Linked DNA regions of Homo sapiens: regions 1 and 3 are each reported to be linked to region 2. The links are microRNA targets in miRTarBase. Many come from high-throughput screens and were not tested one by one. Region 2 holds a microRNA gene; each other region holds the end of a gene's coding sequence.
The links. Region 2 holds the annotated microRNA hsa-miR-4645-5p (ACCAGGCAAGAAAUAUUGU, at 1,703-1,721, shown strand). A microRNA usually pairs through its seed, bases 2 to 8, with sites in the 3' UTR of a target mRNA and lowers its output. Matches are read on the target gene's strand: a 7mer-m8 pairs with bases 2 to 8, a 7mer-A1 pairs with bases 2 to 7 and ends in A, and an 8mer does both.

Region 1: the mRNA of ARC is a reported target of hsa-miR-4645-5p. Seed matches in the 3' UTR shown: 7mer-A1 at 406-412 and 7mer-A1 at 1,014-1,020.
Region 3: the mRNA of UBA6 is a reported target of hsa-miR-4645-5p. The part of its 3' UTR that is shown has no 7-base or 8-base seed match.

The regions. Positions count from the first base shown.
Region 1 is chr8:142,610,248-142,613,247 of GRCh38, reverse strand. It overlaps ARC (activity regulated cytoskeleton associated protein), which reads left to right. Exons shown (of 3, transcript NM_015193.5): 1 at 1-764; 2 at 996-1,140; 3 at 1,391-2,199. The coding sequence ends at 167. Among named protein-coding and RNA genes, the nearest start is that of ARC, 2.7 kb to the left of the region's middle.
Region 2 is chr6:2,851,446-2,855,799 of GRCh38, reverse strand. It overlaps MIR4645 (microRNA 4645), which reads left to right and starts at 1,693; the gene lies at 1,693-1,769. It also overlaps the pseudogene SERPINB9P1. RefSeq lists enhancers at 407-536, 597-656, 1,233-1,973, 3,269-3,458.
Region 3 is chr4:67,616,384-67,619,383 of GRCh38, forward strand. It overlaps UBA6 (ubiquitin like modifier activating enzyme 6), which reads right to left. Exons shown (of 33, transcript NM_018227.6): 33 at 1-2,749. The coding sequence ends at 2,614. Among named protein-coding and RNA genes, the nearest start is that of STAP1, 59 kb to the left of the region's middle.

The DNA.
Region 1 (3,000 bases), not on the chromosome of region 2:
CCAAGACCCTGGAGCAGCTCATCCAGAGGGGCATGGAGGTGCAGGATGACCTGGAGCAGGCGGCCGAGCCGGCCGGCCCCCACCTCCCGGTGGAGGATGAGGCGGAGACCCTCACGCCCGCCCCCAACAGCGAGTCCGTGGCCAGTGACCGGACCCAGCCCGAGTAGAGGGCATCCCGGAGCCCCCAGCCTGCCCACTACATCCAGCCTGTGGCTTTGCCCACCAGGACTTTTGAGCTGGGGCTGACTCCTGCAGGGGAAGCCCTGGTCCAGCTGGGTGCCCCCTCGAGCTCCGGGCGGACTCGCACACACTCGTGTCATCCAGATGTGAGCACCGCACCCAGCGGCAAAGAGCCCTCCCCCCTGCAGGGCTCCACCCATCACCCTCCCTCCGTCTGTCTTTCCGGCCTGGACCCCACCCTCCACACTCTCAGGCCATCACAGAACACCCCAGCTTCCTCATTCTGCTACAACACCCAGGCCCTCTGGACATCCAGAAAACCAAGTGTCCGGATGGCAGGGGCCAGCGGCCACCAAGCTCATGGGACACCCAGAGCAGAAGCTAGGGCAGAGCCAATGCTGAGGGAGCCTCGACTTCCGGCGCCGCCGCCCTCTCCCGGCATCCGCAGAGCCAGCTGACGCCCTCCCTGCCTCCCAGGGCAGCTGGCCAGCCTCGGGCAGCGCGGCCCCCTCCTCCCAGGGGAGAGTAGAAGTCGCACACGCAGCAGAGCAGACCTGATGTCCCGGTGCTTCCTGGCCCCTCAGGTGAGCCCCTGCCCCAAGGCAGTACCGGCTGTGGGGCATCTGAGAGCTGGCGGGATCCGGAGGCTGTTTTCTAGGAGAGCCCACTGAGGCTTGGGCCCCCAGCAAGTTAGCCAAAGGGATGGGGTGGGGCTGGCATCATGGAAGGGGGCATTGGGGAGAGTGGGCCGGGTGGGAGGCAGGGGCAGTTTGCTGAGCCAGCTCTCACATGGACCCGCGCTTTCTCTCCCCCAGCTCCAGTGATTCACGCCCGCCTGGAGAAGAATCAGAGCTCAGCTCATGACTCACCCATGGCAGGCGGAGGGTCCCAGAGGGGCTGAGTCCTCAAATCCGGCTGAGGCAGCAGCTGGCACCATCAGAGCCAGGAGAGTGACAACAGGTAACGGAGCACCACCCTTCCACCCAGACCCCACCATCAGCTGTCCCGGCCAAATGAGCTCCTCCCCAGACCCCAGACACCCTGCGGCCCAGGCCACTCCCCAGTGTTCGGGCTCGCTGGGAGGCTCTGACGGGGTCGGGGGGCCTCTGCCTTGGAAGACCAGCGCCATCCACCGGCCCCAGCCCCTCCCCATGGAGCCCTGGCTACTGTCCTGCGTGGTCCTTCACTGCCCACTCTCCTGTTCTTTCAGGTCTCAAGGTTCCCACAAAGTCTTTGCTGCTGTGCTGGGCACCACCCACCCCTCACCTTGCAGGCTGCCTGCGTGGGAGGCGAAGTCCCAGGACAGCCCAGAGGGGGGCTACAGAGAGGAGTCGGCTGCAGCAGAGGGCAGGAGCCCCAGCTTAGCCCTGAGCGCCAGCGCGAGGACCAGGGCCTGCCACTAAGCCCGCCCCGCTGGCCGCCAGCTGCCCGTCCCCAGAGCCACTGCAGCAGGAGTCGGGCCCTGCCTCCCTCCCAGCAGGGAAACCCCGCCCGCTGCCAGGCCATCCTCTCTGCCAGAGGCTTTCATGAGCCCCAAGGCTGGGGCCACAGCTCCTACCCCTGCCCAGCAGCCCTGAGCTCAGCTGCAGGAAGGACATCCCAGAAGCCATGGCTCCTGGGGCGCTTCCAGGCATTCTGCCCTGCCCCGACACCAGAACCCTGGTGCTGGTGGGCCACTAGCGTCTGCAGCCTAAGCAGGTGCTGGCTCAGGGTTCATCGTTCTGCCTTGTCCACTGGGGGACCAGCCCTGCAGACCACTCTGACAAGTCTTCAGCCCACACCCTGCCAGCCCCACAGATTTTATTTTTGCACATAAGCCATAACCAATCCTCAAGGCTGGCACAGGCTTTGGGGAAGCCCTGGAGCCTGTGAAGACCCTGGAAACCTCATGAGGCTGTGGCCAACCCCTGCCCCTTGCCCCACACAGACCAGGCCTTAAATGTCGGTCCAGGCCCTGTGCACCTTACCCCAGAGACAGACTCTTTTTGTAAGATTTTGTTAATAAAACACTGAAACTTCCTGGAGTGTTCATGTTGTTTCTTCTGTGTGCTTGGGCTGGGCAGGGGTGGAGCTGCAGACACAGGTCCCCCGGCCCAGAGGGTCACCCTGGAGACCCCATGGGTGTAGTGAGAGGTCTCCGGGGGCTCGGGGGAGCACCAACAGGGCAGCCTCCATCAGGGTCCTGGATCCTCAGGGGGAAGCACCCTCAGGGATCCACACTGCAGCCCCACTACAGCCCCACTGCAGCCCACTAGGCCTAGCTCAGCCCTGCCTCCAGGCCCGAGGTGGCCATCAGTGAGGGTGACTGCTGACTGGGGCAGCCCTGTTCATGCTGAGCTCATGCCTGCCCCTCTGTAAGTCCTACTGGCACGTGGGGTGTACAGCTGGGTGCATGGGGGGATTACAACTAGGGCTTGGCCCACACAGCCATCTCAGGCTCCGGAGCCCTGTGGACCTAGTCAGTGCAGACCCCAGCTGGGAGGGGACCCTGGCCATTCCTGGTTGCCAGATCATGAACTTGGTCTCTCTGAGCCTCAGTTTCCTCATCTGCAAAGCAGGGCATCTATCCTCAGAGCATCTGTGCTGAAGAACTTGGAAACAAGGGTAACTTGATGCCCTGCGGGACATCAGCCTCCCCCGCCTTTGTGGGGACACTGGATTCCGAGGGGCTGCGGGAGGTCAGCCTCCACTGCCTTTTTGGGGACACTGGATTCCAAGAGGCTGTGGGAGGTCAGCCTCCCCTGCCTTTATGGGGGCACTGGATTCCGAGGGGCTGTGGGAGGTCAGGCTCCCCTGCCTTTGTGGAGACACGATTCCTAG
Region 2 (4,354 bases):
GGAGAGAGGACTGGGATGCCATGGTCCTAGGTGGGAATGGGGGGAGCAGTGTAGGCCTCGGTGCGGACCCAATGCTGGGGCCCTAAGGCTCTCTCCTCTTTTCTTCCAGGTGGAAAATGAGCTTATATATGAAGAAGTCAGCGAGTGGACAAAGCCAGGCGCAATGGATAGCAAAGATGTGGAAGTCTCCTCGATTCAAGTTACAAGAAAACCGCAGCATGGAGTCTGCTCTCAGCTGTTGGGGAATTACCGATGCCTTTGACTAAGTCAAGACTGACTTTTCCAGAATATCACCCAAGAGATAGAGCCGTCCCTGTCCAAGTTTGTGCGCTAGCCCTTCATGGAGGTCAGAGAGGAAGAAACAAAGGCAGCTGTGGCCTCGGCGGTCACAGTGTCAGAACGCACAAGCCCCATAAAGAGGTTTCACGCAGGCCACCCATCCCTTTTCATTCTCCAGCAGAACAGGACAGAGAGCGTTCTGTTCTGCGGAAGGTCTTCCACTCTACAAGGCAATCCCTCCAGCTGCTTTGCTGTATTGTGCTGTCTCCTGTCACACTATGAATGCAGTGACCTCAGCCAGCAACAGGGAGAACCCCCCTGCCTCCCGAACAAAGGACCTCACGTGAAATCCTGAGCTCAGAGCTTACAGATATGTGTGCGCTTTCACTTTACATCGGCCGTGACTTCCAAACAACTTCAGGAAACTTTAGGATCTCTGAGGTATACTGGAGATGACAGCAGCGTAGAATGTTCATTTGGATTTAGAACAGAAATGCTTATTTTATATTTGGCTGCTCCCAAACTGTCCCCAGACTTCCTCTCCAGTGGTTACCCTCCACTGCCCTGGATGTCCCACGTTTACACTCCACACTCACACCTCCACCTTAACAAAGTCCTCCACTGGGTCAAACCATACATCGCTTCGTCTCTGTAGTGATGACTTCCTGTCCTCTGCTCTGTGGATAAAGACCCCAGATAAAGATGCCTGTGTTGCTCAACTCTTGTAAATACTCTTGAGACATTTTGAAAGCAGAAGGAAAGGAGACAGACGGGGAAAATAAAAGGGATGGTCTGCTTGTGCGGAAACGTTTTGAGAATGCCCTTCCCTAAGAGAGAACAGTAAAAGTGAGCAATACTTCCTGAGCTGTGGGTTCATATGGCTGGACTGTGCTGTTTCTCACGGGAGAAGTTCTCGTCTCCCCTGCGTGTACATCCCTGTTTGCCAGCCTGGCCTTCGGTGTGGTGATATCATGGTGCACTCCCAGGAGGGAAGTGCTTGGTCAAGACTTCTGCTTGGGTTCGACTATCAGTTCTGGTTTCCTTTAAGGCACAGGATCTTCCCTTTAAGGCACAAACACCCCCTTGACACAAAGTAAGGGACAAGGGAACTTTAAACCATTTGGAAACCCAAGCACAATAGGCTGTAGGTTGTAAAAAGAAATTACAAAGGTAATTTTATCCAGAAGAGGGAGCAGTTTAACTTCTGCAGGGTAAGATTCAGATTCACTTTTGTAACTGAACAGGGAATTTTCTAAATATTTTGAAAATGCCGAAACATTTCCTGTTGGCATTTCACAGAAACGTTCAAAGTTCCCTAATGATAGTTTCCGCTGTGCTCACTCCGGAGGCTGCTAAGCAACCTCAGTAATTAGCTCGATTGAGGAAACGAAACTGTGGGGGACTCAGTTTCCATGATAGGGAAACCAGGCAAGAAATATTGTCTCCTCAAGTTGCGACGAGACAGTAGTTCTTGCCTGGTTTCTCTATCATGGAGTCTTGGTTGGACTCTGCTATGCGTCTCTTGATGAAATGTGATACTAGCAATTGAACAATTAAGAAAATGGATGGCGGGGGGTGGAGCGGTTTGTCACTACTGGAGTTGCAGAGGCTCAGTGGGGGAACCTGAGAAACACTGCGTCCCCCAGGTCATCACCGCGTCAGCACTGATGAGTCATGTTGATGGCATGGACCCTGAATATGACACAATGAGATGTCACTTTACCTCTGTGGCCTTTCCCAGAAAAAACCATAACCCCAGTCTAACCATGAGAAAAATATAAGACAATGGTGCAGGCAGGGCATTTCAGGAGAGGGTCAGGTAAAGGGGAGGGGGTCCCAGGAGAGGGTCAGGGGAGGGGACTTCAGGAGAGGGACAGGGAGAGGGGAGGGGGCTCCAGGAGAGGGTCAGGGAAAGGGGAGGGGGTCCCAGGAGAGGGTCAGGGAAAGGGGAGGGGGGTCCCAGGTGAGGGTCAGGGGAGGGGACTTCAGGAGAGGGACAGGGAGAGGGGAGGGGGCTCCAGGAGAGGGTCAGGGAAAGGGGAGGGGACTTCAGGTGAGGGTCAGGGAAAGGCGAGGGGGTCCCAGGACAGGGTCAGGGGAGGGGACTTCAGGAGAGGGACAGGGAGGGGGGAGGGGGGCTCCAGGAGAGGGTCAGGGATAGGGGAGGGGGGTCCCAGGAGAGGATCAGGGGAAGGGGTGGGGCTTCAGGAGAGGGTCTGAGAACACACAGGCAGGCAACACCTTAAAATCCCATCTCAGTCAGCAATGACTCCTCATAGGGCCACCACGAGCTTAAATGTCACTTAAATGTCCCTATTTGCCAGCCTGGACTTCGGTGTGGTGATATCATGGTGCATTCCCAGGAGGGAAGTGCTTGGTCAAGACTTCTGCTTGGGTTCGACTGTCGGTTCTGGTTTCACATGCACTGTGTGAACACGCTTCATACAGAGGGTCAGCACCGCACTGTGTGAACATGCTTCATGCAGAGAGCCTGTACTGCACCAGGTGAACACACTTCATACAGAGAGTCAGCACCGCACCGTGTGAACATGCTTCATACAGAGAGTCAGCACCGCACTGTGTGAACACGCTTCATACAGAGAGTCAGCACCGCACCGTGTGAACACACTTCATACAGAGAGTCAGTACTGCACCGTGTGAACATGCTTCATACAGAAGATCAGCACCTCACTGTGTGAACACACTTCATACAGAAGGTCAGCAATGCACCGTGTGAACACACTTCATACAGAGAGTCAGCACTGCACTGTGTGAACATGCTTCATACAGAAGATCAGCACCTCACTGCGTGAACATGTGTTATACAGAGAGTCAGCACCGCACCGCGTGAACATCCTTCATACAGGTCAGCACTGCACCATGTGAACACACTTCAAACAGAGAGTCAGTACTGCACCATGTGAACATGCTTCATACAGAAGATCAGCACCTCACTCTGTGAACATGTGTCATACAGAAGGTCAGCACTGCACTGTGTGAACACGCTTCATACAGAAGGTCAGCACCGCATTGTGTGAACATGTGTCATACAGAGAGTCAGCACCGCACCGTGTGAACACGCTTCATACAGAGGGTCAGCACCGCATTGTGTGAACATGCTTCATACATGAGGTCAGCACCTCATTGTGTGAACACACTTCATACAGAGTCAGCACTGCACTACGTGAACATGCTTCATACAGAGGGTCAGCACCTCACTGTGTGAACATGTGTCATACAGAGAGTCAGCACTGCACCGTGTGAACATGCTTCATACAGAGGGTCGGGTCAGCACCGCACTGTGTGAACATGCTTCATGCAGAGAGTCTGTCCTGCACCAGGTGAACACGCTTCATACAGAGAGTCAGCACCGCACCGTGTGAACACGCTTCATACAGAGGGTCAGCACCGCACTGTGTGAACACACTTCACACAGAGGGTCTGTACCACATTCCGTCAACATGTGTCAGCACCATACCATGTGAACACGCTTGGTACAGTGATATACATGCATGTGGCAGAGCTGTGAAATTATGACCTGCTGCAGACAGACTTTGTACACTGTGCTATCAGCCAACTGGGCAAATGTGGACAAGAGTCCCTGCATGTCTCTATTCACCAGGTGTCTGTCAAATGAAATGGGCTGAACTGGATAATGGCAGGTCTGACCCATGATTACTGCCTGTAAGAGCTGAGTTATCCCAGAGTGTAGGCGTGGGATATTAAAATATATATATATGCAAATATATTTGGGCTGGGTTTGGTGGGTCATGCCTGTAATCCAGCACTTTGGGAGGCTCAGGCAGGCGGATAACCTGAGGCCAGGAATTCAAGACCAGCCTGGCCAACATGGTGAAACCCCGTCTCTACAAAAAAATACAAAAAATTGGCCAGGCACGGTGGCTCACGCCTATAATCCCAACACTTTGGGAGGCCGAGGTGGGCAGATCACCTGAGGTCAGGAGTTTGAGACCAGGCTGGCCAACATATAGTGAAACCCCAACTCTACTAAAAAAATACAAAAATTAACTGGGAGTGGTGGCAAACGTCTGTGGTCCCAGCTACTTGGGAAGCT
Region 3 (3,000 bases), not on the chromosome of region 2:
GCTTTTTTAATGTTCCATGAATATCACCAGAGTGTGACATAGTAGATTAAAAAATAAAGATATACATTTATTTCCATGTCCTACCTTTGGGACAATTTATGAGGAACTTATGGACAAGTAACAGAACTGCTTTGAACTCTAAAAAGAAATGGACTTTACAAATCCCTAACCAGTAGTATGGGATTTACCAGATCCTCTAGGTTTTACATGGTCACGACTATTTCTCTCCAACTGTTTTAAAAGAATTTCCTGGAGCCATCTGAGGACATTTGAGGTAATGTCCTTCCACACCTAATAACTGCTGTATCTCCATGATTGCAAACTTGAAAATCAGGAAACACCAAAGCAACATTACTCACAAAATAAACAGCAAAATCAGAATCTCTGGAGTCAACTTATGAAACATGATTTACAAAGATATTCTTACATTTCTTAATTTATTTTTAATAAGTAAAAAATACTCATTGAAACTGTACAAAAATCAAATCATTAATTTTTGCACCTGGTATTTCAGTCATCAACAGCAATCTCATGGTACAGAAATAAAATAATGGGAATTATCATTAACTTCACCCTGGCTTTCTAGCTTAGTAGAACCAAACAGAAGAAATCATGGCAATAACCATTAACTATAGAAAAAAAGTAATGGAAAAATGGTTGCAGGTTTAATCACAAAATGAACTTAATTTTTGTTGATTTTGTTTTATCTGCTAAAACACTAATATCTATAAATATGAACTGACAGCATCGTTCTAAATTTACTTCTGAAGAGCTGTCGAGACTTCAATAAAATATAAGCAAGTTACTGGATCATATTTATGGACTGCTGAATTAACTACCCGAAAAGTATCAGTTACTTTCAAAGAACACAAAACAAAGTGAACGTGGAAAAAAGCCTTCTTTGCAAAAGTCCTTTTATTAGTCCTATCCTCTAAAATTCCAAGCCACAGAGCCTTGATATTCCTGGATTCTGTTTTAAGTAACCTTAGTTTTAAATATGACACTTGGGATATGCACAATGGGAAAGGGTAGGATATGTGAACAAAATTTAATTTCTTTTTTCCAAAGGTAGTCATTTTCTTTAAATTCATCCTATCCACTTTTGCCCACTTCCCCATGTACAGATTATCCTTTAGTCATACAAATTCACTCTCCACTTCCACATACATTTTCCCCACTTGATGGTACTTTTACAAGAGGGAAACAATACAGCTGGTTGATAAAGTAATTTAAACTATTTGTAAATGAAATAAAAAGAAAGTAGGTATAATACATAGTGTAAAAGATACCAAATTGGAGTAATATTGATGTTAATCTAGTTTTTTATTTAACAAAGTACCTACTAATGGTCTGAGCAGGAGAGTAGAAGGAAAGGAGCTAGAGGGAAATTACTTCCTATGGTTAAAAAAAAGCCAACTGCTTCAGAATGCATGACAGTCTTAGTAATAAAAGAATCATTTACTATTTTCACTGAGTTTACAGTGTTGGGTACTACTGTTTACATCATTTTAATGAAAGTATTTATAAAAACATCTGCAATAGTTCATATCAGAAAACAAAGTTTCTCTCAATAAAGACCTTAAAAAATAAATTTTTATCTTCATTAACTCCCTTTCTGGGAATGGGAATGAAATAACATGCTTCTGTTTAAAAAAAAAAAACAAAAAAAACACAAAATTTAATACCCTAATTAGGTTTCTGGAAAAAAAAAAGACTACCCTAGCAATAATTTTTAACATTCTACATTTCATCTATTTCTAAAGACACTCCCTTTACAAAATCTTTTAGTTTTATATATTAGGACAATCAGGTTTAGAGTCTCACATAAATAAAATAGCCACATTAGAAGGCATACTGAAGAATCAAATGGTTAGCCACATTTGTCTGTTCACATTCACGGATTCTCTAAGAGCGTTGTGAGAGTCCATATAATACTGTTCACGTTTAGTCTAAGTTAATATGTCTCATCTGACCTATTGCTCCTACAACACTGATGCTATCAACAAAAATCCTGATTTTGGGGACACAGTGATATAACAAACTGGTTAAACGAGCAGAGGTAATAGGACAGTAAACTGTAACTGCACAATTTAAAATATCCACCCTTCATCCACCACTACCATACTTCTTCCCAGTGGTATTAAATTCTCAAAGCCAAATCATATCAGAGGTGCAGGATGCCAAACACTATTTGCATAGAAAATCAGTCTTCAAGACTAAACAAAAAAGAAATTCATAAAATTAAACTTTTTGAATAGTTGCATTCGTTGCTTTCAATTTCTTCATCCATATCTGTTCTGGTCATACATATTTTTTCCTTCTTTTTATCCAGAGAGATTAATACACAGATTAATACACAAAACTTTTGTAAATAGCATTCCAGTTCAAAGTTGCTTGTGATCATAGCCACGTGTGAACCGTTAGACAAGTGTATGCTATGCCCCAAAATGTTTTATAATTCTTCAGTGCAGTTTCTTACTGATGTTTCCCTTAAAATTAAGGCTTAATGAAAGAGAAATCCATAGTATTATGAACTGATTTTCTTTAGCTTCTGAATTAAGTGCACTCTTTCCAAAATCAAGTGGTCCTGGAGTAACGTTAAGACAACTTGTATTAATCAGTGTCATGACTGAAGTAGTATCTTACTGGAGGTCCCGGCAAATCTTCATCTCCATCAATGTCTGGAGCAAATGACACAGTAAGATCCACATATTTCTTTTCAGTAGTAGGTTTTACAAGTTTATGCATTCTAAGAAAAATAAGCAAGAATGAATACTTTGGTAAATTCTATAAAATGAAAAAATGATTTGCTGACTAATGCCATCCAGAGAACCTGGACTTGTATCTAGACTTTAACATCTAATAATAATCTGCTTTCACATATTCATTTTTCTTTACTAAAAGGTCTGAACTCATTTATACTCAAGACACTCATTTACCTAACAGTGAATAAATTTGGACACACTGGTCATGATAAAGAATACAAACCATTTATTAAAA